Linked DNA regions of Homo sapiens. The protein of the gene in region 3 interacts with the protein of the main gene of each other region in a pairwise test. Each region holds a gene or a part of one and is shown on either strand. Other genes may lie near its edges. The genes, in order: MANBAL, ASPG, TMEM115 and CYB5R3.

Evidence for each region.
Region 1: the proteins of TMEM115 (region 3) and MANBAL interact in binary tests that used the Homo sapiens proteins (3 or more experiments, as listed by UniProt).
Region 2: the proteins of TMEM115 (region 3) and ASPG interact in binary tests that used the Homo sapiens proteins (3 or more experiments, as listed by UniProt).
Region 4: the proteins of TMEM115 (region 3) and CYB5R3 interact in binary tests that used the Homo sapiens proteins (3 or more experiments, as listed by UniProt).

Annotation. Positions count from the first base shown.
Region 1 is NC_000020.11:37,285,545-37,292,668, forward strand, and holds the start of MANBAL (protein MANBAL), read left to right. Parts: upstream 1-4,110; 5' UTR 4,111-4,142; intron 4,143-4,724; exon of another isoform or gene 4,725-4,782; intron 4,783-7,124.
Region 2 is NC_000014.9:104,081,589-104,088,704, forward strand, and holds the start of ASPG (60 kDa lysophospholipase), read left to right. Parts: upstream 1-4,111; 5' UTR 4,112-4,182; coding exon 4,183-4,264; intron 4,265-7,116. Other genes in the region: uncharacterized protein LOC124903408, read left to right, coding at 1-40, 1,272-1,347. UniProt on the Homo sapiens protein: Exhibits lysophospholipase, transacylase, PAF acetylhydrolase and asparaginase activities.
Region 3 is NC_000003.12:50,356,507-50,363,343, reverse strand, and holds the start of TMEM115 (transmembrane protein 115), read left to right. Parts: upstream 1-3,822; 5' UTR 3,823-4,280; coding exon 4,281-5,131; exon of another isoform or gene 5,132-5,226; intron 5,227-6,837. UniProt on the Homo sapiens protein: May play a role in retrograde transport of proteins from the Golgi to the endoplasmic reticulum. May indirectly play a role in protein glycosylation in the Golgi.
Region 4 is NC_000022.11:42,618,392-42,625,415, forward strand, and holds part of CYB5R3 (NADH-cytochrome b5 reductase 3), read right to left. Parts: intron 5,498-7,024; coding exon 5,398-5,497; intron 1,555-5,397; coding exon 1,382-1,554; 3' UTR 1-1,381. UniProt on the Homo sapiens protein: Catalyzes the reduction of two molecules of cytochrome b5 using NADH as the electron donor.

The DNA.
Region 1 (7,124 bases), on a different chromosome or scaffold from region 3:
AAAGAAAGAAAGAAGGAAGGGAGGGAGGGAGGGAGGCAGGATGGGTGGTATTGGGGCTGAGCCCTATGGAAAGAGAATGAACCTGTCTTGTGGAGAGCCAGAAGACAGCATTCTAGACAGAGAGACCGACAAAGGCAATGGTTTGAAGGTGGAAAAGCAAATGTCGTACCTCTACTTTCCCTTTTCCACATCCAAATCCAGCCCATCATTCGGGACCCACATTGAGCTGCCTCCCTCACGAGGCCTTCCTAGATACTTCGGCGCGTGCTGATCCTGCCCCTCTTCCTAGAGCTTTCATGTGTGTACACTCATCTGACATGCACAGGTCAGCTGGGTAGTGCAAAGGTTATGCATGCAGACTCTGCGAGGCCTTAGGGAAGCTGCTTAACTTTTCCAGCCTTAGGTTTCTTCACCTGTAATGCCTACTTTATAGGGTGCTGGGGGAGAATATTGATACGTGTAAAGTGCTTGGCACCTTTACACATATGAATATGCAATAAACAGCAGCTACAATTAATACAAAACTGGCTCACTCAGTCAAGTGTGACTCCAAGAAAATATTTTTCAGAGAAGAGGCTACGGCTTTTTTGGCTTTTTCTTCTTCATTGTGCAATCACTGTGCCTTGCATAGATATTAGGCATAGAAATAAGCCTGCCACAAAGCTCTCCTCCGTGCTGTGGTGCTCATGGAGCCATGCAGGGCACAGAGACAGCAAAACTCAGCTGGAGGCCTCTAAGAGCTTCTAGAGAGTGAGCAAGTAGCTGTGCCTGTCATTGTGCCTGCAGCAGTCACTTGGGCGATCTTTTACATTTGGATACAGAGAGTAACAGGTTTCAAAGCACCTGCACACCTGGATTAGTATGCTGGGGCTGCTCTAACAAAGGACCACAAACTGAATGGTTTAAACAACAGATATTTACTTTTTCCCAGTTCTAGGGACTAGGAATCTGAAATCAAAGCGTCAGTGGCACCTTCTGAGGGCTGTGAGGAGCCTGTCCCATGCCTCTTGACTAGCTTCTGGTGGCCTGCTGGCAATCTGTGGTGTTCCTTGGCTGTAGAGGCATCGTCCCGATATCTGCCTTCATCTTCACATGACGTTCTCTCTATGTGTGCATCTGTGTCCATGTTCCCCCTCATTTAAAATAAACTATTTCCTTTTTTAGAGACAGGGTCTTGCTCTACCACCCAGGCTGGAGTGCAGAGGTGCGATCATAACTCACTTCAGCCTCCAACTCCTGAGCTCAAGCGATCCTCTCATCTCAGCCTCCTAAAGTGCTGGGACTACAGGCAAGAGCCATCGCGCCCTGTCAAAATTTCCCCTTTTTATAAGTACAGCAGTCATACTGGATTAGGGACTACCCTAACACTCTCATTTTAACTTGATTACCTTTGTAAAGCTCCTATCTCCAAATAAGATCCCATTGTGAGGTACTGGGGGTTACGGCTCAAACACAGCTTTTTGGAGGGACACAATTCAACCCAGAAAACACTCTCCTCACTCACACCCTGCAGTGTGTCTCTCCAGGGCAAGTAGTAAGTCCTGTCCTAAACATCTGCACCCTGCAGGCCTCAGTGTCACCCCCTCAGCTATTCTTAGGCTCCAAGCCGTTTCTCACTACCCAGCCTTTCCACCACCCATCGTGCTTTTTCCTCCTTCTCTTTGCCTGGCAAAGTCCTCCTCATTCTTCATTTCTTTTTTTGAGATGGAGTATTGCTTTGTTGCCCAGGCTGGAATGCAGTGGTGCGACCTCGGCTCACTGCAACCTCTGCCTCCTAGGTTCAAGCAATTGTCCTGCCTCAGCCTCTCAAGTAGCTGAGACTACAGGTGCACACCACCATGCCTGGCTAATTTTTTGGGTATTTTTTGTAGAGACGGGGTTTCGCCATGTTGCCCAGGCTGATCTCAAACTCCTGGGCTCAAGCAATCTGTCCACCTTAGCTTCCCAAAGTGCTGGGATTATAGACGTGAGCCACCACTCTTCATTTCTTACCAGAAATGTGATCTCATGGACGTCTTCCCTCATCACCTCTCTTTTGATTGTATCTCCCATGTTATTGCTTCTCTCATGGCTCCCCCTTCTTCCTTCCCAACACATCTCATGGTTTTTAAGTGTACATTTATCTGTGTGATTGATTAGTGGGGGTGACAGACATTGACCCCTAGTCTATAAGCACAGTCAGGGTAGGATCCCACCTACTCACCATTGTCTTCCCAGTTTCATAGTGCATGATCCAGAGTAGAAACTCCATAAATATTTTTTAAATGAATAAATTATGCATTTTGGGTCCCCCATGCCACCTCACATAGTATGGGATTAGTGAATGTTGAGTGTATTATTTGTCTTCTAAGAGACTGAATTCCTTTAGGGCAAGATAGGTCTCTCTCTCTCTCTTTTTTTTTTTTGGAGTCTCTGGTATCTAACCTCTGTTCCTTGATCCTCTATGTATGTTATCTAGGCTGCATAACCAATTATCCTAAAACTTAGGAGCTTAAAACAATAACATTTAGTATTTCACAATTTCTGTGAGGCAGGCATTCAAGTGGCATTGCAAGGTATTTCTGGCTCAAGGTTGCTCTTGAGTTTACACTGAAGATTTTGGCCAGGCCACAGTCATTTGAAAGCTTGACTAGGACTGCTGGAGCCACTTGGCTCATACACATGGCTGGCAAGTTGGAGCTGGTTGTTGGCAGGCAGCTCAGTTACTCCCCATGCGAGCCTCTCCATAGGACTGCTTGAGTGTCTTCACAACATGGATTCCCCATGAGCAATCAAGACAGAGGAAAGAGGAAGTTGCAATGTCTTTTATGACTTTATCTTGGAACTCGTGCTCCAAGATTTCCGCAATATCCTATGGGTTATACAGGTCAGTCTTATTCTTGGTGGGAGGTGACTACAGAGGGGTATGGATATCAGGAGCCAAGAATCGTCAGGGTTTATGGTGGAGGCTGGTTATCACACTCTCATCTAGGTTTCTTTTTCTCCTACTACTTGCCCCCCACCCCTTCTTAATCATGGAACACTGTTCTTTGCCTTCAAAAAACTTATCCTGTTATATGATTACACATTCATTTAATTAGTCTGTCTCCCTCCAACGGACTGTAAGCACCACAAGGGCAGAGACTGTATGTGTCTGCTTTAGCACTGTGTCCTCAGTTACAAGGACAAAGCATAGAGTACGCGCTCAGTGAATGCTTTTTGAATGAATTATAATGATTTGCTTCTGTCTGAATTACAAGAGGTGTTTCTGTTTGTCTCCTCTCTGCATTGTAGGCTCCTAGCTCAGGACCTGGCATAAAATTAAGGAAATGAACGTGAGAAACACTTTTGAAATAGTGACAACACATCCAGATGAACATTTTGCAGGACAGCTACACACCCGTTTTAGCTCACCAGCTACCAGTTGTGACTGTGCTCTGCTCTGGGAGATGGCTTAGCTTTGCATAGGACAAAATTCTAATCTAGTTTCGCGCAGTTCTTACGAATTTGTTACAATGAGACGGGCCAAGCTATACAGCCCATTGCGATGAATAAGTAACTTTTTTTTTTTTTTTTTTTTTTTTTTGAGGAAGAGTCTCATTCTGTCGCCCAGGCTGGAGTGCAGTGGCGCGATCTCGGCTCACTGCAACTTCTGCCTCCCGGGATTCAAGAGATTCTCTTGCCTCAGCCTCCCAAGCAGCTGGGATTACAGGCGCCCGCCACCACGCCCGGCTAATTTTTGTATTTTTGGTAGAGACGGGGTTTCACCATGTTGACCAGGCTGGTCTCGAACTCCTGACCTCAAGTGATCCGTCCGCCTCGGCCTCCCAAAGTGCTGGGATTACAGGCGTGAGCCACCGTGCCCAGCCCCGAGAAGTAATTTCTTTTGTTTTCTTTTTAATTAAACAAAAATGTTGCTGAAACGAGCTGAGTGATATAGGAGCTTAAAGAATTGACAAGCTCTAGATTTCATTTCCCCAAACCTCTTTGTCCAGCTCGAACCCACAGAACAGGGACAAAAGTCGACAAAACCCAGCGGTGCCTCACCCAGAAACCTGGCAACGCGGGCGGAACAGAGCCGGTTGGTTGCTCAGTGCGCGTCACTTCCGGGACTCAGGGTCGCAGGGAACTACTTCCGGGGGAGCGGCGCGGCGGCGCGGGAGGTGAGTGCCGCAGCTTTGCGGTGGGGTGGGAACCGAGAGAGAGCCGTCCTCGGTGCGGTGGCCTGGCTTTCCCGGCCGGCCTGTCTCCAGCGGCGCCGCTTGGTGGGCCCGGCTGTCGCTCCGCTCAGGGCCTGAATACGTTCCCTCGGCGGTTGTTCGAAAGTTACTTCCGGAGGGGAATTTGAGCCCCCCGGGAGGCGGAGGGCCTCGCCTGGGGCAGCCCTGCGCTTTCGTGCGGAGGCTGGGCCAGAACCCAGGGCTCCTCATGGCCTGGTCCGGGCCTTTCCTCCCACGGGTGGAGCAGTAGGAGAACCCTGAGCTCCAGAGTGAATCTGGCCAGGGTTCGAATCCGTATGGCTCTCTTACCGTGGGCAAGTCACGGTTCCTCTCTGGCCCTCAGTTTCGTCTTCTAAAATGGACATACACGCTTGTACTGCGGGGTAAACCGAGGTGGTGAATGTAAAGCCCTTAGTAGGTGCACAGTCCATGTTTGTTGTACGAATTCTAAGAGAAGCGAGAAATGAATATGAGAAACATTTTTAAAATGGTGACAACACATTTAGATTAATAATTATATTTTGCAGGGCATCTGCACACCAGTTTCAGCCCACCGGCTACCAGTGTGACTTTGCCCAGAGAGGTGGCTTAGCTTTGCATTCTAATCTAGTTTTGCGTGGTTCTTAGGAATTTGTTTTAATGGGACGGGCCAGGCTGTACAACCCATTGCCATAAAGCGGTAACTTCTTTTTCTTTCCTTTTTTTTTTTTTAAAGCCATTCTATTTATTTATTTAGAGACGGAGTCTCTCTCTCGTCCACGCTGAAGGGCAGTGGCGGGATCTTGGCTCACTGCAACCTCCGCTTCTTGGGTTCAAGCGATTCTCCTGCCTCAGCTTTCCGAATAGCTGGGATTACAGACGTGTGCCACCACGCCCGGCTAATTTTTGTATCTTTAGTAAAGACAGGGTTTCACCATGTTGGCCAGGCTGGTCTCAAACTCCCGACCTCAGGTGATCCACCCGCCTCGGCCTCCCAGAGTGTTGGGATTATAGGCGGGAGCCACCACACCCGGCTTTTTTTTCTTTTTAATTAAAAAAAAGTTGAAATAGAGATGGAGTCTCACTATGTTTTCCTGCCTGGTCTTGAACTCCTGGAGGCAAGATATCCTTCCTCCTGGACCTCCCAAAGTGTTTGGGATTACTGGCAAGAGCCACTGTGCCTGGCCTAAAACAGTAACTTCTGACACTGGTTTCTATTCCCCAGTCTGTTTTCAGCTGAATTTTCACAATAGAATTTAAAGTTACTTCATTAGAAGCCAAGAATGGCCTACCAGCACAGTACACAACATTGGGAGATGAAGGCCTGTGGCAGTCGTGAAATCTGAGTTTTTCAGTCTTAAGAGAAGATTTAGTATTTGCTAAGTCTTGAGAGCTATACTTGTCTCAGTGGTTTTTTATTTATTTGTTTTGAAATGTTGACCCATTCTTTTTTTCCCCAATAACCTTTTTGTTTTAGAATAATTTTAGATTTACAAAGTTATCGCAAAGATACTTCAGTGAGTGCCCATATAGCCCACGTTTCCCCTATTACTAATATCTGAAATGTCACAATTACTGAACCAATATTGATACATTATTATTAACTCTAATCTGTACTTTATTCACATTTCCTTAGTTTTTCCCTAATGTCCTTTTTCTGTCCTGGTATTATCCAGGGCACCCTATTACATTTAGTCATCATATCTCTTTAGGCTCATCATCTCTGTGATCGTTTCTCAGACTTCCCTTGTTTTAGATGAACTTGAGGGTTTTGAAGATAGTACTGACTGGTCAGATATTTTGCAGAAGGACCTTTAATTAGGATTTGCCTGTTTTTGACATGAGTAAGATCAGGGTAATGGGTTTTTGGGGAGGAGGACCACTGATAGGGTTCGGCTGTGTCCCCACCCAAATCTCATCTTGAATTGTAGCTCCCATAATCCCCCCATGTTGTGGGAGGGTCCTGGTGGGAGACAATTGAATCATGGGGGTGGGTCTTTCCCATGCTATTCTCCTGATAGTGAATAAGTCTCAGGAGATCTGATGGTTTTATAAAGGGCAGTTCCCCTGCACACACTCTCTTGCCTGCTGTCACATAAGACATGCCCTTGCCTCCCCTTTGCCTTTTGCCGTGATTGTGAGGCCTACCCACCCATGTGGAACCGTGAGTCCGTTAAACCTCTTTTTCTTTATTAATTACCCAGTCTCGGGTATTTCTTCAAAGTGGTATGAAAATGGACTAATCCAACCACAGAAGTAAAGTGCTATTCTCATCACATCATATCAAGGGTACATACTATCGATATGAGTTATCATTGTTGACATCTGTTAGCTTGAGCCACCTGGCTTGAGGTAGTAGTCAGGCTTTTCCAGTGTAGAGTTACTTTTCCTCCTGCACTTTCCGCACTGTACTTTTGGAGAAAGTCATTATGTACAGCACACATTTAAGGAGTGTGGAATTATGCCCCATGCTTAAAGGCAGAGTATATAATGCAAATTATTTGGAGTTCTCTGTGGGAAATTTGTCTGTTCCCCTATTTTTTGCTTACAGAGTCATATATTTGTATCGGTGTGAACTCATGGATTTGTTTTGTTTTGAGACAGGGTCTCCCGCTGTCGCCCAGGCTGGAGTGCAGTGGTGCAGTCTTGGCTCACTGCAACCTCCACCTCCCGGGTTTAAGTGATTCTCCTGCCTCAGCCTCCTGAGTAGCTGGGATTACAGGCACCTACCACCATGGCTGGCTAATTTTTGTATTTTTAGTAGAGAGAGTTTCACCATGTTGGCCAGGCTGGTCTTGAACTCTTGACCTCAGGTGATCCACCTGCCTTGGCCTCCTGATTACAGGAATCCCCTCTCCTGGGATTACAGGCGTGAGCCACCATGCCGGGCCTGAACTCATGGATGTTTATTTTATACTTTGGACCAGAATCCAGTACTACTTTATT
Region 2 (7,116 bases), on a different chromosome or scaffold from region 3:
AAGAAGAGATGCAGAAAAGACAGGCAGGGCTGCAGAAAAGGTAGGCAGGGCTGTAGGGTGGTCCGGACCACCGGGCACTGTCAAATGGCAGATGTCCCTCCGCTCTGCTCTGGGTGGGGCTGGGGCCGGAGTGGATTTTATAAACACTCTGGGAGGGTCCCACCCAGAACTCTCCTGCGCTGTGTGGAAGGAGGGCCACTGGGGAGGGTGTAGATGGGAAGTGAGAGAGAAGAGGGGACGAGGAGACCCCTGGGTGGCCAAGGAAACACTTTTCTGAACAATCAAAAATAAAGGAGGGGCAGGCAGAACGTGGGGACTTGGCTGGGGCTGCCTAGGTTCCCTGGACTCACCTCCTGGCACTACACTGCCTGGGGAGCCAGGGGGCCAGGAGCCAGGGAGCGACTGGCACACCCCACACCTTCCTAACCCAGCCCCTGGTGGGGAGCCCTTCCTTCAGCAGCAGGCAGCACAGCGATGGCCAAGTGTCCCTCCAGGGGGACAGACGTTTGCCCCTCCACGCCACTCACCCGGGGTGAGGCCGCAGCACCCTCCACCTTGCTCCACCGTGGCCAGCTTCTGGCCTCCCCTCACCAAGCCCCGGGACTTCACGTGAAGATCACTTACTGGCCTTCTCCCCTCGCGGTCCTGGGTTCTCTCCTCCTCCTGGCCTCTGAGGCCAGAATGCTGAGGCTCAGACTAGGGCCTTTGTCTCTGCTGACACCTCGCTGCTGTCACGACTTTGTGGTCCCTGTGCCACTGACTGCAGGACGCGCAGCTGAGTCTCCTTGGACCTGCCCAGGTGGCCCCCAAGCAGGATGTGTCCAACACACCTTGCTTCCCTCTGCCTGGCCCCAGGCCCCACTCTGGCCCCTGCTTTCTCAGTAAGGACATCCCCACTCCGTGGCTGCTCTGGCCAAAGACAGGAGAGTCACCCTTTCTCTTCGGCGCGTACCCCTCAAGCTCCAGCTTGTGCTCCCAGCACTCCCACCTTGCACTTCCCCATCCCCAGCTCCTCCCCACCCTGCCCAAAGCCCTCCTGAACCCATTCTTGTCTCAGTCTCCGCACATAGCAGCCAGAGATTAAAACAAACCAGCCCAACCCTCGGTGGGGCTGGTGTTCACCTTTGGGGTTAAATTGAAAGTCCTTGCGTGGCACCACAGTCACTCAGCGGGCATCCCCTCCCTCTGAGTGCTCTCGCCCCACTGACCTGGGCACTGTGGGGCCATGCTCACTCCTGCCTCGGGCCTCAGCACCTGTCCCTTCCTGGCAGCCTGTCCCGCCTGGCATGCTGGCTTTGCTCCAATGCCAACCCTTCGGAGAGGCCTTCCCTGGCCACCCTGTTGTAAACAGCACTGCCTGTCTCCGTGTTCCCTGAGTGTTCCTCCAGGCACTGTCACTGCCAGACGCTGGTATTTTTGTCTACTATGGCCCCCACCCTGGCTGGTACACTCAGAAGGACGGGCTGCGTCCCCTGTGCCTAGAGAGGCATCTGGCACAGAGCCAGCCTTCAACATATATTGCATGAAAGATTCCGTCCAAGGACGCTGTAGATGTAGGTGGACGCAGACAAAAGCAAAGCAGGACAGTGGATTCGTCCAAAGACCGGCAGTGTCTTCAGGTGAAGCTGCAGCGTCGAGTCCTGGTGCTTGCAAGGTTTCAGCAGCAGAAACCTGATGGGGCTCCTTGCACCTGGGAGAAAAGCCACTCCAGTGAGGATTATTGCCAGTGAAGGCTGCCCTGGCCCCAGACAAGTTTTCCTAGAATTTATGGTAGCAGGCGGGTTGTTAAAGGATGATTCCCGAAAGGGCCAGACATGGTGCTCACAGGGATGCAGGGTGAGCATGCGTCGAAGAGCTTCCCTAGCCCAGGCAGCTGTGAGGACCAGCTCAGAAGAGAAGTCCTGAAACAGACACTTACAGATGAGGAATATTGACATGATTGTGCAAATGGACCTGAAACTGGATTTTCAGGGGGCTGTGATGGGCTGGATTGTCTCCCTTAGATTCTAATGTTCAAGTCCCCCACACCCCAGTGTCTTAGAATGCAACTGTATTTGGAGGTAGACTTTAAAGAGATGGTTGAATTAAAATGAGGCCCCAAATTCAATCTGACTGGTATGTCTATAAAAAGAGAAAGTCTGGACATCTGGAGATACATCAGGGATGCGTGACTGCTCAGAGGAAAGACCCTGTGAGGCACAGCAAGAAGGCACCATCTGCTTGCCCAGGAGACACCAACCTGTGACACCCTGACCTTAGACTTCCACCCCCAAGAACTGTGAGAGGTAGACCTCCTTGCACTGTAAATCACTCGTTCTGTTACTGCAGTCCCAGAAAACTAACACAGACCTTTGCTGGGCAGAATGCCTTTGCTTCTCTGCAGACAAGATTACTTTTGCACTATTGCACTGTTGTTATCAAAATAATTATATGGGGCTGGGCATGGCGGCTCACACCTGTAATCCCAACACTTAGGGAGGCTGAGGTGGGTGGAGTACCTGAGGTCAGGAGTTCAAGACCAGCCTGGCCAACATGGTGAAACCCCGTCTCTACTAAAAATACAAAAAAAAAAAAAGAAAAAAAAATTAGCCTGGTGTGGTGTGCACCTGCAATCCCAGCTATTCGGGGAGGGGGCTGAGACAAGACAATTGCTTGAACCTGGGAGGCACAGGTTGCAGTGAGCCAAGATCTTGCTACTGCCCTCCAGGCAACAGAATAATAATAATTTTTATTATGGAATCAGTGTCAAATGCTGGTGCCTTCTGGGGGCAACACACAGTTTCCCACCAAAGTGCATCAGTGCCCCAGGCAGTCAAGGTGCCAGGAGACGAGGAGGCCGCGGATCTTCTGTCCACCTGGGAGCAAGCCTGCAGCTTGGGACCCTCCTGGGACCCTGCACCCGCCAGTGCCCTGCCCTCCTGGGCTCTCATGGGAGTGAAGGAGGGTGGGCTCTGTAGGAGTTAAAGAAAGAGGAAAGAAACATGAAAAGCGGCTCAACAAAGGCAGGTTTATTTTGGAGAATAAACCTGAAAGGGACTTCTGGCCGATTTTGGTCAGGAGCCATCTCTCCTACAGACTAAGGATCTTTAAGGGTTTAGGAAGTGGGGAGCTTATCGCAGGCTCGGAATGTTTCTATGTGAGGGAAAGTTTATTGCGGGCTTGGAATGTCTCTGGTCGGAGGGGAGGTTATCTCGAGGTTGGCATGTTTCTGATTGGAGATGTTATTTGTGGTTTACGGTCGTGCTGACATTAGCTATTGGGCTGATGTGTTTTGGGCTGGATTTAGGCAGCTTTTTAATCAAAGGGAACCTAAAATGGCGGTGTTTGTCCAAGAAGGCCATACTCCTGCTCTGTCCCGCTCCAGCCCTTGGGGGCCCCTCGGGCTCTTCTCTTGGATGGTGTGTGAATGGGCACATGTGGAGGGGCTGGTCCAGCTCTGCCTGCCTCTGGCCATCCAAAGGAGGGACAGCAGGGCCTGGGCAGCAATGCCGGCCTTGGAGCCCCGGGGCTGTGGAGGCTGCTTGACAGGACACGGAGCCCCCTCTGTGCTCAGGTCGTGGAGGGCCTCGGGCACTACGGTCTGCCAGGCACCACATGTCACAGCTACTCAAACACCCAGGGCCGCCACGGAGGGCCAATGGCCGCAGGATGGCTCAGGACCCGCCCCACCCCTGTCGCTGCCTTTCTGGCTGCCCCCTAGTCCCTGGACAGGCGCTCCCCAGCCCCAAGCAGGCCCCAGCCAATCTCCTGCCCAGGCAGGAGCTCCCCCTGCCGCCCTCACAGACCTCACCTCTTCCTACACGTTTCCAAGGCCGCGCCCCGCCCCGCACCCCGCCAGGCCCCGCCCCGCACCCCGCCAGGCCCCGCCCCGCACCCCGCCAGGCCCCGCCCCGCACCCCGCCAGGCCCCGCCCCCACCCCGCCAGGCCCCGCCTCTCTCTCCGACCCTGGACAGTCCCCGGGACCCACCCCGCCCCCAGGTCCTGCCCCCGCCCGCCTCCGCGGGGCCTCCCACCCTCCCGGGCAGACTCCACTCCCGCCCCCTCCCCGTGGGTGCCCCCGCCGGCCCCGCCCTCCCAGGCTGCCCCCGGCGCCCCGGGCCTCCTCCGCGCAGTCCCTGAGTCCCGCAGGCCCTGCGTCCCCGCTGCACACCCCCGTCCACTCCCGTGGTCCCCGGTCCGGCATGGCGCGCGCGGTGGGGCCCGAGCGGAGGCTGCTGGCCGTCTACACCGGCGGCACCATTGGCATGCGGAGTGAGCTCGGCGGTGAGTCCGAGACCCTGGGCGGGGTAGGCCTCTGGACCTGGCCGCGACCGGGAGCCTCGGACCCTCCTGCACCCACGGGGGTCGTTGGGGAGTCAAATCCGCGCCTGGATGGGGGGTGCGGGCTGAGGTCGCTCTCCTCCGGTTCCGGCCACCGGCGTCCCCACGCATGGAGCCCCGACCTGGACAGAGGAGATTGCGGTGGGTTCTCGCCGTCGCGGTGCTCCCGGGAGCGCCCTGCGACCCTGGGGCCAGGCCCCCTGTGCTGCCGCTGCGCCCCTGAGGGCCAGCGTCCTGAAGTCCTGGAATATGGGGCGGGAGGGCCCCAGGGCATTGGCCTGCCGCTCCTGCTCTGGACACAGAAGGCTTAGGAGGCTGCCCTGGAGAAGGCTTAGGAGGCTGCGAGGACCCCTCAACTGCGACACCCAGGAGGGTGTCCCCGTCCCCTGGGGTCCTGGTCAGGCAGCAGTGGTTGGCACGATACTGGGGCTACCTGGCATCTGCGGGGACGCACGTGTTCACACCCGAGGTGGCCTCAGAGCCCTGCTTCCTCTGCCCCTGTGTGGACCTGGTTGACCAGAGACCAGCGATTGCGTCTGGACTGAGTTCTGCCTGGGTGGGGTCAGGGCCTGGGACAGGCACCGAGCTCTGTGGTACTCCAGCACAGTGCTGCCAGCCTGGGCTGGGCACAGGAAGGATGGTAGCTTGGGGAGCCTGAGGCCACCGGGATGGGGAGAGGACGGTTGCACTGGAGCCTCCAGAATGCCTGGGTGTTCCCCAGGAGGGCAGGACACTGCCTGGGGCCCCCAGATGGGCTCTGCTGTGATGTGGGGCCTCCCTTGGGGCCAGGACAGCCCCCTCGCCCCGTCTTGAACCTGTTTGCGACCCTCCATGGGCCACTGCCTGCCTTTCCCTCAGGAGCCCTTTCCACTCCTCCTCCTCCCACTCCCTGCTGCCCTGGCCCCTCCCCACACTCCTGCTTGTGTCCAGCGCAGCTCTCTCTCCTGGGACGGCTGGGACCCTCTCCGGCTCTGCCAGAGCCCAGGGCCTCCCCTGGCATGACCAGAACATTCTCTTGTCCCTTGCCCATCTGCCAACCACTTCCCCGCCCCTCCTATCCCCACCCCCTCTCACGGCCTGTTCCCTGGCAGCTGCCCCTCCTGGCCACCCCTTTCTGCTGAAGTGGCTGCTCAGAAGCCACCAGCACTCTGTCGGTGCTCTCAGATTCCACCCACCACACTGTGGCCGGTGCAGACCCCTCTGGAGGCCCACTCTGCGCCCAGCCCAGGAGACAAAGCCTAGTGGGGCTCGTCCACGAGGGACTCAGGTCCCCAAGAACGTGGCTGTCCAGGCTGCCGGGAGCCTCCTCTGCACTTCTCCTTCTGCCTGTGAATGGAACAAAGTCATTCACAGCTTGGCAAACGCCCCTGTGTGACACTCCACTGACACAGAGTGACACAATTCCTGTGCTTGGCCCTCACAAGCTAGAGAGAGAGGCTGCCATTGAAGGGATGGCATGCATTAAGGAGCTAGTCCCAGGGGCAGGATCTGCCAGGGCCCTGTAGGGGCTGTGGGCTGATAACAGGGTCTGAGCTGGGTGTGTGGATGGTGTGGAGTTTGGAGGCAGCCCAGGGAGGGCTTCTCTGAGGACACAAGGCCTGCAGGACAAAGATGGGAGAGGGCCAGGCCAGGAGCAGCCCTGCAAGGTGCAGGAAAGAGGAGTGGGGAGCCCAGCAGGGCCGGAGCCTGCCAGAGCTGCCCCCGAGTGGGGACAGGACCTGGGGACTCTGTGTGGGGCCTCGTCCGACGCCCCTGACGCTACCCCTTCAGGCTTGGAGTGTGGCCAACTGCAGTTTCGTTGAGCTCAACATGTAGTTCTTGAGTGGTCCGAGCTGCAGGGGCAGGTGGACTCTGTAACCCCACCACACACCCGTCTCGCTTGGCCCCCGCGTGCTCGCCGCAGCAGCCTGTGGGTGCACTCACACGCGTGCACCGCATTTCTGAAAGAGGCTGTGAGGTCCTGTGTCTGGGTGGGAAACAAGAGACTTGGAGGCTGGAAATTGGGTGTGGGGCGTCAGTCTTCAGACCTGAAGCAGCCTTCTGAGATCCCTTGGTGCTCTGTGCACTGGGGTCCTGGCTTCTGCTCAGCAGCCCGTCCTCGTGTGGCTGCGAGGTCACCCCCAGCTGTTGCTAGCTGACCCATGTGGGGCATCCACTTCCAGGAACCTGCAGGAATGGGCTCCCCCAACCCCTCGTGAGGTTGGAGCAGCCAGACTGTCAGGCGTCAATGATTTACTCCCTCCACACTGCTGACGTGGGCTCTGGCCTTCCCTGGGGAGGTGAGAGGGGAGTGGTGGCTTTGCCCTAGTAAAGCTGTTTGATTGTCGCTGTTGGAACGGCTTCTGCGCCTGCTGGTAAACAGTGACCTGTGGGTGGAACGCTGCACACCTGGAGCCCTGCCAGAGTTCAGGGAGGGCAGAGGTGATGCCAGTGGGGACGCCCCTTGACCCATCCCTTCTCTGAGTTCATTGAAGCTATCACAGGTCAAGGGGCATAGCGAATCCAAACACGGCTGATAACCCCAAGCCCAAGCTGGCATCAGTGGCCACGTTCTGTACACCCGAGAAACTTGAAGACTTCCTATGTCAAACTGGGAACCCCACCTGCTTGCCGGCCTGTCCCAAAGTCCCTCCTGAGCCCGGCTCCTTGCAGGCACAGCAGGGAGGGCAGAGATCTGGGGCCAGGCAGCTGAGAGAAGCTCCCTGCCCGGTGACCACACGGGTCCCAGCAGTCGAGAGTGTCAGTGGAGTGATGCCCATGGCTTCTTGGTTACTGCAGTGGCGTCTGTGCCCTTG
Region 3 (6,837 bases):
GGGAGGAGGGGGAGGGTGATGCATTAATTAATGGCTTCGTTAATTAATGTCATGTTGCTTGTCGCTTTCTCAGTGTGTGTGTGTGGTCCATGCCCACTGCTGGTGCCAGGGTGGGTGTCCATGTGCACCCGGCCTGGATGCCAGCTGTGTCCTTCGGGGGCGTGCGTGTAACTGTAGTGTAGTCAGGTGCTCAATGGAGAATATAAACATATACAGAAAAATATATATTTTAAGTTTAAAAAACAGAAAAACAGACAAAACAATCCCCATCAGGTAGCTGTCTAACCCCCAGCTGGGTCTAATCCTTCTCATTACCCACCCGACCTGGCTGCCCCTCACCTTGGGCTGGGGGACTGGGGGGCCATTTCCTTTTCTCTGCCCTTTTTTTGTTGTTCTATTTTGTACAGACAAGTTGGAAAAACAACAGCGACAAAAAAGTCAAGAAACTTTGTAAAATATCGTGTGTGTGATTCCTTGTAAAATATTTTCAAATGGTTTATTACAGAAGATCAGTTATTAAATAATGTTCATATTTTCACTTCAAATGGTTCCCATCCACTGTATCAGCTTGGGGGTGAGGACTGGGTAGCTATGAAGACAGTTGGCCAAGACCTCAGAGTCCCACTTAGTGCTCTGCAGGGGGTGAAGACCATGGTAGCCCAGGTCCCTGTCAACCACAGGGCATGGCACTTGCTTCCACCAGTTATAATAGGTGCCAGGCCCTTGACATACATTGTCTCATAACATCTCAAAAAGCTGTCTTTTAAAAACAAGCAAGACAGGCTGGGTGCGGTGGCTCATGCCTGTAATCTAGCATTTTGGGAGGCCGAGGCGGGCAGATCACTTGAGGTCAGGAGTTTGAGACCAGCCTGGCCAACATGGTGAAACCCCGTCTCTACTAAAAATACAAAAAAATTAGCCAGGCATGGTGGCATGCGCCTGTAATCCCAGCTACTTAGGAGGCTGAGGCAGGATAATTGCTTGACCCCAGGAGACGGAGGTTGCAGTGAGCCAAGATTGCGCCACCGCACCCCAGCCTGGATGACCGAGCGAGACTCTTGTCTCAGAAAAAAAAAAAATACAAGCAAAACAAACACCCTCCCAGAGCCTGAAAGCCAGGACCCTGGAGGGAAGAAGACAGATCAGAGATGCTGGTTTAGTGGGGAGGTGGATCTGGCAGTCTGGTCAGACCACCAGGGCCTGACAGGGCCTCTGCCGGGAGCTATGAGTGAGCACCTGGCCAGTGTCCCTACGGCCCAGGAAGCCCTGACCACAAGTGCAGCAACGGCTCCCTCCTGGCCCACAGGAGCTTGAGGCCGCAGCTGCTTAAACTGGAGCCATAGGCCAAACTTCATTTTTGTGAATCCTCTCAAGCTTAGGCCCTAGTTCATTTTCACCCTAGAAGGTGTGACCTTTGCGATCTTCTCATGTGGAGAGAATTATAACCTGTAACCACCAGAGCACAGGTGTCCCTGCCTTCCCACCACAGTCCTCTCTCTCCTCCCAACACTCTGCTCTCTGCGCACTGACCTGGCTGAGTCCTCGCCACAGTCTCTGGGGTGGGTACTAGTGTATCCCCATACCACAGATGAGCAAACTAAGAGGAGAAAGCCTTTCCCCCCAGGTGAGAAGGCTAAAAACCAGCAAAGATTTTAGAGAAGAGGTGGCCACCAAGGGTTGGGGAGCTTGGATGCTAAATAGATGAAGGGGCTTCGAGGCCTCAGCCAAGATGGAGACTTTTTCTGTCTCCTCTGCAGGGTTCGGCTGCAGAGCAATGCCTAATCCACAACCCCCAAGACAGCTCCCATGGCCTGCAAGAGACCGTGCAATCTTGGATAGGGTTGTAAGATAAAATACAGAACACCCTATTTTGAATTTCAGATCATGAACGAGTTTTTAGTATGGAAGTGTTTCAACTATTGTGTGGGACATACCTATACTGAAAAACTGGGGGCTGGGCACAGTGGCTAACGCCTGTAATCCCAACACTTTGGGAGGCTGATGCAGGAGGATCGCTTGAGCTCACGAGTTCGAGATCAGCCTGGGTAGGATGGCCACCCCGCCCCTGCCCATGTCTCTACAAAATAAAAAAATTTTAAAAATTAGCTGGGCACAGTAGTGTGTGCCTGTAGTCGCAGCTAATCAGGAGGCTGAGGCTGGAGGATCCCTTCAGCCCAGGAGTTAGAGGTGGCAGTGAGCTATGATTGTGCCACTGCACTCCAGCCTTGGACAAAGCTAGACCCTGTCTCAAAAAAAAAAAAAAAAAAAAAAGGGGGCAGGGGGACATGATTATACTCGAAGATTACTCATTGTTTATCTGGAATTCAAATTTGACTGAGCATCCTTATTTTGATTTGCTAAAACTGGCAACCTTACCCAGATGTGGCAACCAGTGGGAACCCAGACCCCAGAAAAAAAGCATCAGCACCCTTTTTAACCTGTAGGCCATGCACACATCAGCACACACTGAAATCAGTGGCTGAAAGGAAGGGATCCTGTGTTTTATAAAAGCACTTTGTCATAGAATTATTTTAATTATATGGACAGCTTTTTGTTTTGTTTTGAGACAAAGTTTCGCTCTTGTTGCCCAGGCTGTAGTGCAATGGCATGATCTTGGCTCACCGCAACCTCCGCCTCCCGGGTTCAAGCGATTCTCCTGCCTCAGCATCCCGAGTAGATGGGATTACAGGCATGTGCCACCACACCTGGCTAATTTTGTATTTTTAGTAGAGATGAGGTTTATCCATGTTGGTCAGGCTGGTCTCAAACTCCCGACCTCAGGTGATCTGCCCGCCTCAGCCTCCCAAAGTGCTGGGATTACAGGCGTGAGCCACCGTGCCCAGCCTATATGTACAGTTTTTTAAAAGTAACTCCATATACAAAAAAAAAAAAAAGACACAGAACACAACCTGTCAGAAGTCACTGTGGCGTGAAGTGGGACCAGAACAGGCCTAGCCCAGGCTTGTGGAGAGACCTGGCTTGTAGAGAGACCTCTCATCCTCCGCAGTTATCAGAAGTCCCTGGTGGGGAGGAGGGTCACTGAGGGCTGCCCAGCCTCGTCCCTATGCGGGAGGGAGCCCTAGGTTCGTGCTCCAGGTCCACCTCACTTGGAAAAAGGGCAACGTGAAATAACAAACAAAAAACTTTTCCAAGTGGGAGAAAACAAACAAAAAAAGGCAACATGTGCAGCACTCGCTGAGCACCCAGGGTGGACTGGCATTTTACACCCCTTTCCCCTTTGATTATTAGGACAGGAAGATCATGTCATCAGCTACATTTTATGGCCCATGAAACTGAGTTTCAAAAAGGTTCAGGAACTTAACCAACCAATGCCACACAGCCTCCGAGGCAGAGCAAGGGTTCCAGCCTGGGTCAGGTCCCATTCACCAGACCACGGAGGTTCTGTTTCTCACACAGTGACACCTACCCACACGCCAGCCAACAAGGACACACTCGCTCAGAGGTACACGCACAAATAGAGCTACTCTTCCTAGGGAATTCAGCAAGTGTGGGGGCTAGAGCTGTGTTGCTTCCCGAACCCTCACCGCCGCTTTCAGGGGTTAGAGATGCTAATTCATCCCTTCCCACCTCCTGAGAACCGACGGAAACGGTCCCTGAGAACTACAACTCCCAGCACACCCCGCGCTCACCACAACGGGACCGGTCCGTGCTCATGGCCTCCTGGGACTTGTAGTTCTAGCCAGAACCCTGTTCAACTCTTCCCCGGCTGCAACCAAGGACTCCGTATCCCAGCATGCAGAGGAGCCGGAAGACAGGCGCTTAGAGGACAGCCCGCTGCCGCCGGGGACGCGCAGGCGCAGCACCCCTGTTTGTCGGCCCCCCGAGAGAAGAGGTACGGTCGAAGCCAGGAGCCAGGCCGAGCGGGAGCTGACCAGGCTTGACTCGGGTACAGAACGAGGCACCAGTCCCCTTGCGAACCGAAGGGCCTCGCAGTGGATGGAGGAGGCCCAGCCCTGAGGTCAACGCCAACCAGGCTAGCCTGGCACGGGGCCTACAGGGTGGGTAGGCGGGCGTGCCGCAGCCGTCCAGGGCCTTCCCTCAGGTCCCGGGCGAGGGGCCTACGCTGCGGCCCGGCAACAAGGCCCGACTCGGCCCCTCGGGACCAGAGCCCCACCCGATCGGAAGCGGATCCTTTACCAGGGCCATAGGCCAGTGACTAGGCCGGGCCTGGGCCTCCCATCGGGGCCGGACTAGGACGAGGCCCCGGGGAGGCCCCTGGCCTACCAGACCCTTTTCTCAGGCCGACAGCCGCCAGGAAGATGCAACGTGCCCTGCCAGGCGCCCGCCAGCACTTGGGGGCCATTCTGGCCAGCGCCAGCGTGGTGGTGAAGGCTCTGTGTGCGGCGGTACTATTCCTCTACCTGCTCTCCTTCGCCGTGGACACAGGCTGCCTGGCGGTCACCCCGGGCTACCTCTTTCCTCCCAACTTCTGGATCTGGACCCTGGCCACCCATGGGCTGATGGAGCAGCATGTGTGGGACGTGGCCATCAGCCTGACAACGGTGGTGGTGGCCGGGCGTTTGCTGGAGCCCCTCTGGGGGGCCTTGGAGCTGCTCATCTTCTTCTCAGTGGTGAATGTGTCTGTAGGGCTGCTGGGGGCCTTCGCCTACCTCCTCACCTACATGGCTTCCTTCAACCTGGTCTACCTGTTCACTGTCCGTATCCACGGCGCCTTGGGCTTCCTAGGTGGCGTCCTGGTGGCACTCAAGCAAACCATGGGGGACTGTGTGGTCCTGCGAGTGCCCCAGGTGCGCGTCAGTGTGATGCCCATGCTGCTGCTGGCGCTGCTGCTCCTGCTGCGGCTCGCCACGCTGCTCCAGAGCCCGGCGCTGGCTTCCTATGGCTTCGGGCTGCTCTCCAGTTGGGTATATCTTCGCTTCTACCAGCGCCATAGCCGGGGCCGAGGGGACATGGCTGACCACTTTGCTTTCGCCACTTTCTTCCCTGAGATCCTGCAGCCTGTGGTGGGTTTGCTGGCGAACTTGGTGCACAGCCTCCTGGTGAAGGTAAAGATATGCCAGAAGACGGTGAAGCGCTACGATGTGGGTGCCCCATCCTCCATCACCATCAGCCTGCCAGGCACAGACCCTCAAGACGCCGAGCGGAGAAGGTACTGTGAAATTTTCCAAAATCTTGTCAAGCTAGGAGCATACTGGTCGAGTCACATGCCATCTGTTGAGGTGTTCGCTGTACATAGGTGGAGACCTACAGTCAGGTATTGGGGCACATCCGGAAAGACAAAATCAGTCTTTGGCCTTAAGGAACTCAGCAGTTAGGTGTCTGGGGTCCACGAGGCACTTTTCTCACCACTCGGGCCACTTAATAAGTCTCAAGAAATGCAGTTTCCTTTGGTGCTGTGAAGTCCCAGTGGAGGGACACAGAACCCTGGCCTTGCCTCAGAATCTCAGAATCCTAGACATTGGGCCTGTGGGAGCCAGAAGCAACCTGCTGGTACTTTCCCCTGTGAGGAAGGGACAGGGAAGGAGGCCTGGGGTCCTCAAAAGGTGATCTGGGCCACTCCAATTTCCAAATGCTGTGTCCTCTTCCTGGGCTTTAACTCAGATGCTGTGCTTCTCTGCCACTTACTTATTGAGAGGGAAGCTTGGGGTATTACCACATTTACCTCTGTCTCCAGCAAGCATGTGTCACCAAAACCAGGGACAGGCTACATGACCCACTGAGGGAGCCTGCTGACACCAGGGAGTGGCGATGACCCTTTCATTATCTGTAAACCAAGCTATCCACAGCATCAGGAGTCCCAGCTGAATTATTCACTGAATGCACTTTGGCCAGGGCAGGAGGGATCTTTTTAAATTCAGCTTACTCTCTCTCCCAGATCTGTGGAGCCAGCAGAGTGGTCCCAGCCTTCATAAGATCCACAGCTCCATTTCCAACATTATTCCTCACTGTTTTGAGGCAATTACTCGAGTAGTAAAATCTGGGACGGGCTTTGTCTTTTGCATTGCCAAGGCTCCTGCTTTTGCTCACCTGTGAATGGGGTTGTGGCAGGAAGCTCTATGAATTTAGCTGCAGTTATCCCTGTATTTACTCTCCACTGGGCTATGGAATTGAGTGTGGGACACACTCCTTTCTTGAAGGAGTTCCAGCTGGGGAAGGGCCACAGATCACTATGGCCCAAGGTATGGTAGGTGTTGAAAAGTATATACAGCATGCTGCAGGGCATAATTCTGGGCCCTAGAGCTTGGGTCTTTATAGGTGATAAGCCCTAAGGACAGAAGTCTCTCTTAACCTTAGCTGGTATTAAAGATGGGGCCAGGTGAGCTGGGCCTGGTAGGAATTGAGCTGTCCCTCAGAGCCATTCAGGTGGGGCCAGGCCAGTGGGGACCCCTCCTCCACTGAGAGGTGTTGGAATGTTAGGGTTGGCTGGACATTCAAAAACCTCTGCCTAGGCCCAAGAAAATGGACAGGGGGGAAGCAGGTTGGTGGGGAGGAAGGGAGGGTCAAGAGGCGGGTTCTTGGCATAGCCTTATGGTTGTTAGCTTACATGGGGGTGGCGGTTATTCCTCCAGCCAGTTTGACATCTGACTGCATGGCCACGCCCAACTCCAAAGGGCTACCAGGAGAGGGAGGCAGGGTTTCCTATCTGTCTCTCTGGTCCTTGTGAGGAAGTGACTAGCGTAACACTAGCTCTCTGCCTTGGCAGGCTTTAGATGGAACTGGCAAGGGCATCATCAGGATGGCAGCCTGGGTAGCAGCAGGGAAAGACTGTCCTGTCTATACCAACTTGTCATGTGTGAGACTGACGGGCAGGGGGGAAGCGTGCTAGGGCTTTCTACACCTGTGCCCTTGTTGCCT
Region 4 (7,024 bases), on a different chromosome or scaffold from region 3:
CCGGGCGTAGTGGCGGGCGCCTGTAGTCCCAGCTACTTGGGAGGCTGAGGCAGGAGAATGGCGTGAACCCGGGAGGCGGAGCTTGCAGTGAGCCGAGATCCCGCCACTGCACTCCAGCCTGGGCGACAGAGCGAGACTCCGTCTCAAAAAAAAAAAAAAAAAAATACAAAAACTAGCTGGGTGTGGTGGTGGGCACTTTTAGTCCCAGCTACTCGGGAGGCTGAGGCAGGAGAATCGCTTGAACCCGAGAGGTGGAGGTTGTAGTGAGCTGAGATCATGCCACTCCAGCCTGGGTGACAAAGGGAGACTCCGTCTCAAAAAAAAAAAAAAAAGAAAAAAAAAATGCTAGGTCTTCCCCAGCCCTTTCCTGACCCCACCCCTTGTGTTGCAGGTCACAGACCCTCGAGGAGCTAGAGAAGGGTTAATATTAGCAAAGTTTTACTTTTTTTTTTTCTGCTCATAAATGACTCTGAAAAAGCCAATACGCAAGAGGCTAACACAACTGTAGTCTAAAGGCAACGTCGAGGTCACTGATATGTCCCTCAGACAAGAGGCACTGCTCAGAATCCCCCTGTGCTGGGGGTGAGGGAAGGAGGGGACGGTTTAGGACAGAGGAATAAATACATGTGGTTGTGGGAGTTCTGCCATCAGGGATGGTGGCCCCAGCCCAGGACCCCAAAACCCTGAGGCGGTGCAGTGGGCTGCCAACCCCCCAGCTCGGGGTTCCCCAAGGCTGCCTCAGTGTTTGGATGGGCTGGAAGGAAATGCTGAGGTTCTGGGAGGGCCCCATGGCCAGCCCCCTCTTCCCACTCTAGCCAGAGGAGAGCCAAGCTCCCGGCTGGCCAGGGCCCTGGGGTAGGGAGCAGTGCCCCCAAGAGGGCTTTCTGGTGTCAATGTCTCATGCAGCGTCAGGTGGTGAGGCCTGGGCCTGGCCCTGAGGCGGGAGTGGGGGTGACAGGCGAGGCTGGGGTGGGCCCTGGCACCTGCAGCTTTGGGCTGCCCATGTGTGTCTGCTGACATCCCGACTATGGTCCACGGCCGGGAATGGTGGGCAGACGGGGCTGCTGGCAGCCCTCAGCCTTATAGTGTGTGTGGGGGGTGGACGAGGGGTCATGAGGACAGGGATGGGGCTGGGCGTCTCTGGTAAGGACCAGTAAGTGCCAGGCAGGACGTACTCTGAAGGCTCAGCCGTGGCCCATCTGGGACACAGCCCTGCTCCCGAAGGGGCTCCAGGGGAACTGCTCAGCCAGGTGATTCACCAGGGCACGGGCAGGCCAGGCTGAACCCGGGGCCCCAGTGTGCGATGTGGGGAGGTGACTGGGTGAGCGTGAACAGGGCGTGGGGTGCGCGGGGCGGGTGGCCGTGTGACCGTGCCCGGCCCTCAGAAGACGAAGCAGCGCTCCGTGGGGTGGCCCACGTGGTCCAGGTTGGGAAGGCAGGCGTACTGGATCATGGGTGGGGGGCCACACATCAGCACCAGCGGCTCCTCCTCTGGGGGTGGAAGGTGGTCCCGGATCATCTCCTCATTCACGAAGCCCTGGCCGTAGTCCCAGGCTGTGGGGTGAGAGACCAGGTAAGCTGACGTGTGGCTGTGTGGTCACCAACCTGCTGACCGACCAACCCTAGGCGGTGAATTCCTTAAATGCTGAAGAATGGAGAGGCTGATCCCAGCAAACTGTCACCAGGACCCCCTGCCCCCAACCCTGACTCAAGCCTATGGCCTCAGGCCCTGCAGCCTGAAACCAGTGTACAAAGCCCATCATGGTTCCCCTGACTGCACTTTACAGTTTGCAAAGCCTTTTGCTTCCATTTGGCCTCCGGGGTGTCCCTTGGAACAACCCAGTGGGTGGACAGGGCGGGGAATATGAATCCCATTTTACAGATGTGGCAACTGAGGCCCAGAGGACCCAGAGTTGAGTTGCTCAAGATCACACAATGAGGCAGGGACACGACTGAGATGTACCTTCCAGGATCCAGAGGTCCCCAGGCTGGTGCTCTGCCCCAGGCTGCTCAGGGTGACAGTCTCTAACTGCCCCCACCTCCATGAGCCCACTGTGACTCCCCAAGAATGTCGGCCCATGAGGAACTGAGTCTCATCCACAGCTGTGTGTCCTGCCCCCTCGAGCCCTGAGCGCCCACGATGATATGGCTGGTCTCTATCCTTAGTAACCAGAAACAACCACCCCACAGCCCTCAACACCAAGAGAAAAGCTGCTGAAGCCTCAGGCCAGGAGGGCTGGCACTGGCTGACACAGACACCCTGCCTAGATGGCCCAAGTTTACAGCATACACTCCACGCTGTGAAGGTCCTGACGGGGAGGGGCCAAAGCAGTCCCGCTTGCCCTGGAACCAGGAAGAGTCTACTGTGCTGAGCAAGGGGGTCCTCTTTATCTCATGGACTCCATGAGCTAAGTCACTGACCACATTTCCCTTTTCACCTTGGCTGCTGGGAAGCCTGGAGTGATACGTGTGGCCCATTCACAGCAAGCGTACATTATAGTCCGTTTTTGTACAAATCCCAGTACTGATTCCATTCATTTTATAGCCCTGCACTTGTTTTTCTTTCACTCCCACTTTCCATTTGTGCCACTCTGACTCACCAGATGAGTCTTTGTAAGCCTCCTAAAATCCCTCTGGAACAAGGCGAGGCACAGAAAATAGTTTTATAGCTGGGCAATGGATCTGAAGTGGATCTGAAAGTACCTTGTAAAAACTGCATGGGCATAAACTGCTAGTGTACAAAATGTGCAGGTATGTAAGACACCTTTCAATTTCACAGCGATTTCTTTTTAGTGTGTGTGTGTGTGTGTGTGTGTGTGTGTGTGTGTTTTTAAGAGACAGGAATTGGCTATGTTGCCCCAGCTGGCAGGCAGTGGCTATTCACAGGTGTGATCATAATGCCCTCCAGCCTGGAGCTCCTGGGCTCATGTGATCCTCTTGCCTTAGCTTTGAATAGCTGGGACTACAGGTGCATGCCACCGTGCATGGCTTAATGTATTTTTCCCTGTACCTGTCCTGAAAGTGGCTCTGTGGGGGAAATACTCACTGCCCCTGCCTGGAGTCCTTGGGGCTCTCCTCATCCTTCGCTTAGCTACGGTACAGCCAGACTGGCCTGTTACCACTTTCTTTCTCAACCTCTGGAATTTCAGCTTACATTTAATGCTACAGCAGTACCTCAACTAATCTTGAATTGTGGGTCACAGTGGCAACAAATGTACACGAAAAATGCTAGGAGATCACCCAACTATTCCTCTCATTGGCAGGTAACTGTCCCGTGGTGGTGGTGCAGGTGCTGCTGCCTGTTGCCACCAGGGGTCAGCACTGGCCCCTCCCTGGGGGACCAGGCCTCGCTCTGGCCACAGGGCAGGGGCTCCTGCACGCACCAGGGATCTGGATCACTCATCTGGAATTGGGATGGGGCTAAACCCTGCCTCGCAGCAAGCTGGCCCCGCCCATGCCATTAGAAACTGCAGTCAGAAAGGAGCAAAGCAGCCTATCACTTCCTCCCTTTAGACTGACACATGGGTACAGGATAAAACGCTCTTTTCTTTGAGACGGAGTCTCGCTCTATCGCCAGGCTGGAGTGCAGTGGCACCATCTCGGCTCATTGCAACCTCTGCCTCCCGGGTTCAAGCCATTCTCCTGCCTCAGCCTCCGAGTAGCTGGGACTACAGGCACGCGACACACGCCCAGCTAATTTTTGTATTTTTAGTAGAGACAGAGTTTCACCATGTTGGCCAGGATGGTCTCGATCTCTTGACCTCATGATCTGCCTGCCTCGGCCTCCCAAAGTGCTGGGATTACAGACGTGAGCCACCGCGCCCGGCCTGCTCCTTTCGTTAGTAGAAGAGAAACAGCAGCTAGACTCCCAGAGCCAGTGCCCTGGCTGACCTCCGCTCCAGCCGCTGCCTGGCTCTGCTTGGCCCCCCACATCACAGGAACCCCGCCACCATAACCGCGCTATAATTTACTAAGAAACCTGCTCCCATTAGTCCTCTGCCTCCCCCACTGGAAGGTCAGCTGCGGGGTCAGGTTGGCTTCCTGAGCATACCAGGTGGAGCAGCCGACCTGGAGGGGGTGGGCTGACCCAGGACAGCAGGTCCAGCCAGAGGCCGGACACGGTGACAACCCACACATCCACCACCCCCTCCAGGCCTGGGTCTCTCAGCCTGGAGGCCTGGAACCCAAGCTGGTCATCTGAGAAGGGCGGCTGCTCCCTCAGGGATGGGCCCAGGTGACCCAGCTCCTAGGTGCTAGCCAGGTGGTGCAAGTCCCAGAGCCCATGTGCTCCTTTCTGGGAGGAGCAGAGGGTGGTGTGGACAGAGCTCCCTCATCAGTAGAGGGCATGCACCCCCTGACATGGATCATCAGCAGAGGGTGTGCGCCCCCCACCATGGATTAGTCCTGAGGAAACTGTGGGGCCGTAGGAGGTGCCGGAGGCAAAGCAGGGGCAGATGGCAGGACATGAGACCCCAAACTGGTGCTCACACGGGTATTCAAAAATGGTGCTTCCAACACTTAGAAATTTCCCAGAAAATGCAGGTCCCCAGCTTCTCTTGAAAAGCAGAGGCCCTGGCCACACAGGGCTATACTCCACAGCGGGATTGCCCACGGCGGATGGGGCTGTGTCCTCCGGACCAGGCAGATGCGCTCCAATTTACCGCAGTTGCCGCCACTCCCTAGTCTCTCAGCCCTGAAGCTAAACATCACCAGAATGTTTCCTGGGGAAGGCTGAGCTCTGCTTTTCTTACAGCAAAGAAGAAATTGAGATATTACTTATACCTACATCTCTATCTGAAGCCGAAAAGGGAAGGGCGCTTTAACTCCCAGAGGCAACCTCACTGCAAGTGGTGGAGGTGGGGCGGCCCTCACTCGCTGCCTCCAGCTTGGCTCTCCCACAACTCCCTTGGCAAGCAGCTCAGCCACTGGACAGGTGGAACAAGGGTAACCCCAACGTCGGCCCAGCCCACTCCCCAGGGCTGACAATGGGAGAGAAGATGGCCTTGGTGTAACTCGGCAGCACCTGAGAGTATGCACGCTGGGATGTGGAAGCAGCAGCCGCCACCGCTGCCCCGAGACTTGCCCCGAAGTGAGCCCCGCCCAGGGAGGGGACGCTGGCCTTCTCTGCCCAGCTGGGCAGTGCAGTGCGCCCGGGAAAGGACTCTGCCTCTGGAGGCGAGGACCTGGGTTTCAGGCCGGGCTGTGGTGGTTTCCGGCTGTGTGGCTTCAGTGAGCCCTTGTTCCTCATCTGTGAGACGGGGCCACACCACCTGCCTCCCACAGGGCCATAGTGAGTGCCAGATGTCGTCCAAAGGCTCAACGCCACAAACAGCTGGGCAAAGGTGAACTGTGGGCTGGCACCTCCCACCCACCCAGTGAGGGGCCTCCCTCACTCACCTTCAGGGGCTCTGTCCAGCGTGTACCAGAGCTTGAAGCGTGCAGAATGTTTGTTCCTGAGTTCCTCCAGCTCAGGTCGCAGCAGGATGTCCTTCTCGGTCTGCAGGGGACAGGGCCAGGCAGTCAGGAAGGATGGGTGGCAGACTGCCCCTGGAGACACTCAACAGAGACGCGCCTCGTCATCGCGCCCGCCTGCGGGCCACACGCTTGCGGAGCTTTCAGGAGGGGACTCGGCCAGAGATCACCCTGGCACCCCTCTCTCCTTGTCTAGCCTAAGGAGCCCCTCAAAGCTGCTGCTGAAGGGGCGAAGGCGTTCGCTAGAAACTCAGTGTGTCAACTGCTTCTGCTGTTGTGAGGAAATGGGCTCGATGTCCCGAGAGTGGGAAAAATGGAAAAAACTAAAGGCGGCCAAGCTGCGCGACAGCAAAAAGGGAAGAGACGGGAAATGTGCCAAGATACTCCAGGGGGTCAGCCCGGGAGCGGGTGTAACACATACAATAAGCAATGGCCCCGTGAGAAGGCTCAGGATTTGCACCCTCAGCCCTCCGGCAAGTCTTTTTGCGTTCTGGGATCTCATTCAGGTTGTACCTCCAGAAACCAGGAAGTACAGACACCACTCCCCACCCAACCTGGCCCCCTCGGGCCTTGCCCACACCCATCCTCCTGGCTGGCCTGCGGCTCCCCCACCCCCACCCGGCTGTCACAGAGCCCTACAGAACTCAGTCCAGCGTCATCCCTTCCAGGAAAGCTTCCTGGACCCTCCAGGGGCTATCAGGGATCTCCCCCTGAATCCCCCACCCGACTCCCCGCCCCCCACCCCCGTTCCACCTCTGATCACATCACAGGCTGCTGCCCAGCGTTTGCAGGTCACACAGGGACAGAAGGGGCTCCTTAGGTCAGTGTGCAGTGTCCCTGACCTCAGGGAACTCAAAGAAACCAGGGGCCAAAGAGCGCTGCCACCCAGAAAGGGCTGCCCACTAACAAATCGCTACTGAGCTCCCAGGCTGGGCAAGGGCGGGGTGGACTCTCCCCAGGAGGCAGCCACAGACGTGACTCCTCTGTTCCCAGGGCTGGGGAACTGCACCCACCCTCCGCGTAGCCCAAGGGTGCCTGAATACGGGAATCACCAGCTCCTTGGTGCTCCCCTCCAGCAGATGAGCTGTGTGAGGGGCATAAGCCTCAACACATCCCAGGGAACACGGGGTGTTGAACAGTTTTTCCAGTTTCTGAGGGTGGGAGGCTGAGGGCCCTTTCTGCCCTAATGGGGTGAGGACAGGGACAGGGACAGGCTTTGGGCTAGATGAACTCAAGGAAAAAAATACAGAAAATATGGAAGAAAAAGTACCTGAAACCCTTCAGAAATAATGACTGTTAGGATTTTTGTGTGCATCTTTTCACTTTTCTTTTTCTATTAACTATGTGTAACTTTCTTTTTAGGCCAGGCATGGTGGCTCATGCCTGTAATCTCAGCACTTTGGGAGGCTGAGGTGGGTGGATCACTTGAGCTCATGAGTTCGAGACCAGCCTGGCCAACATGGTGAAACCCCGTCTCTACTAAAAATATAAAGAATTAGCTGGATGTGGTGGCGGGCACCTGTAATCGCAGCTACTCAGGTAGCTGAGGCAG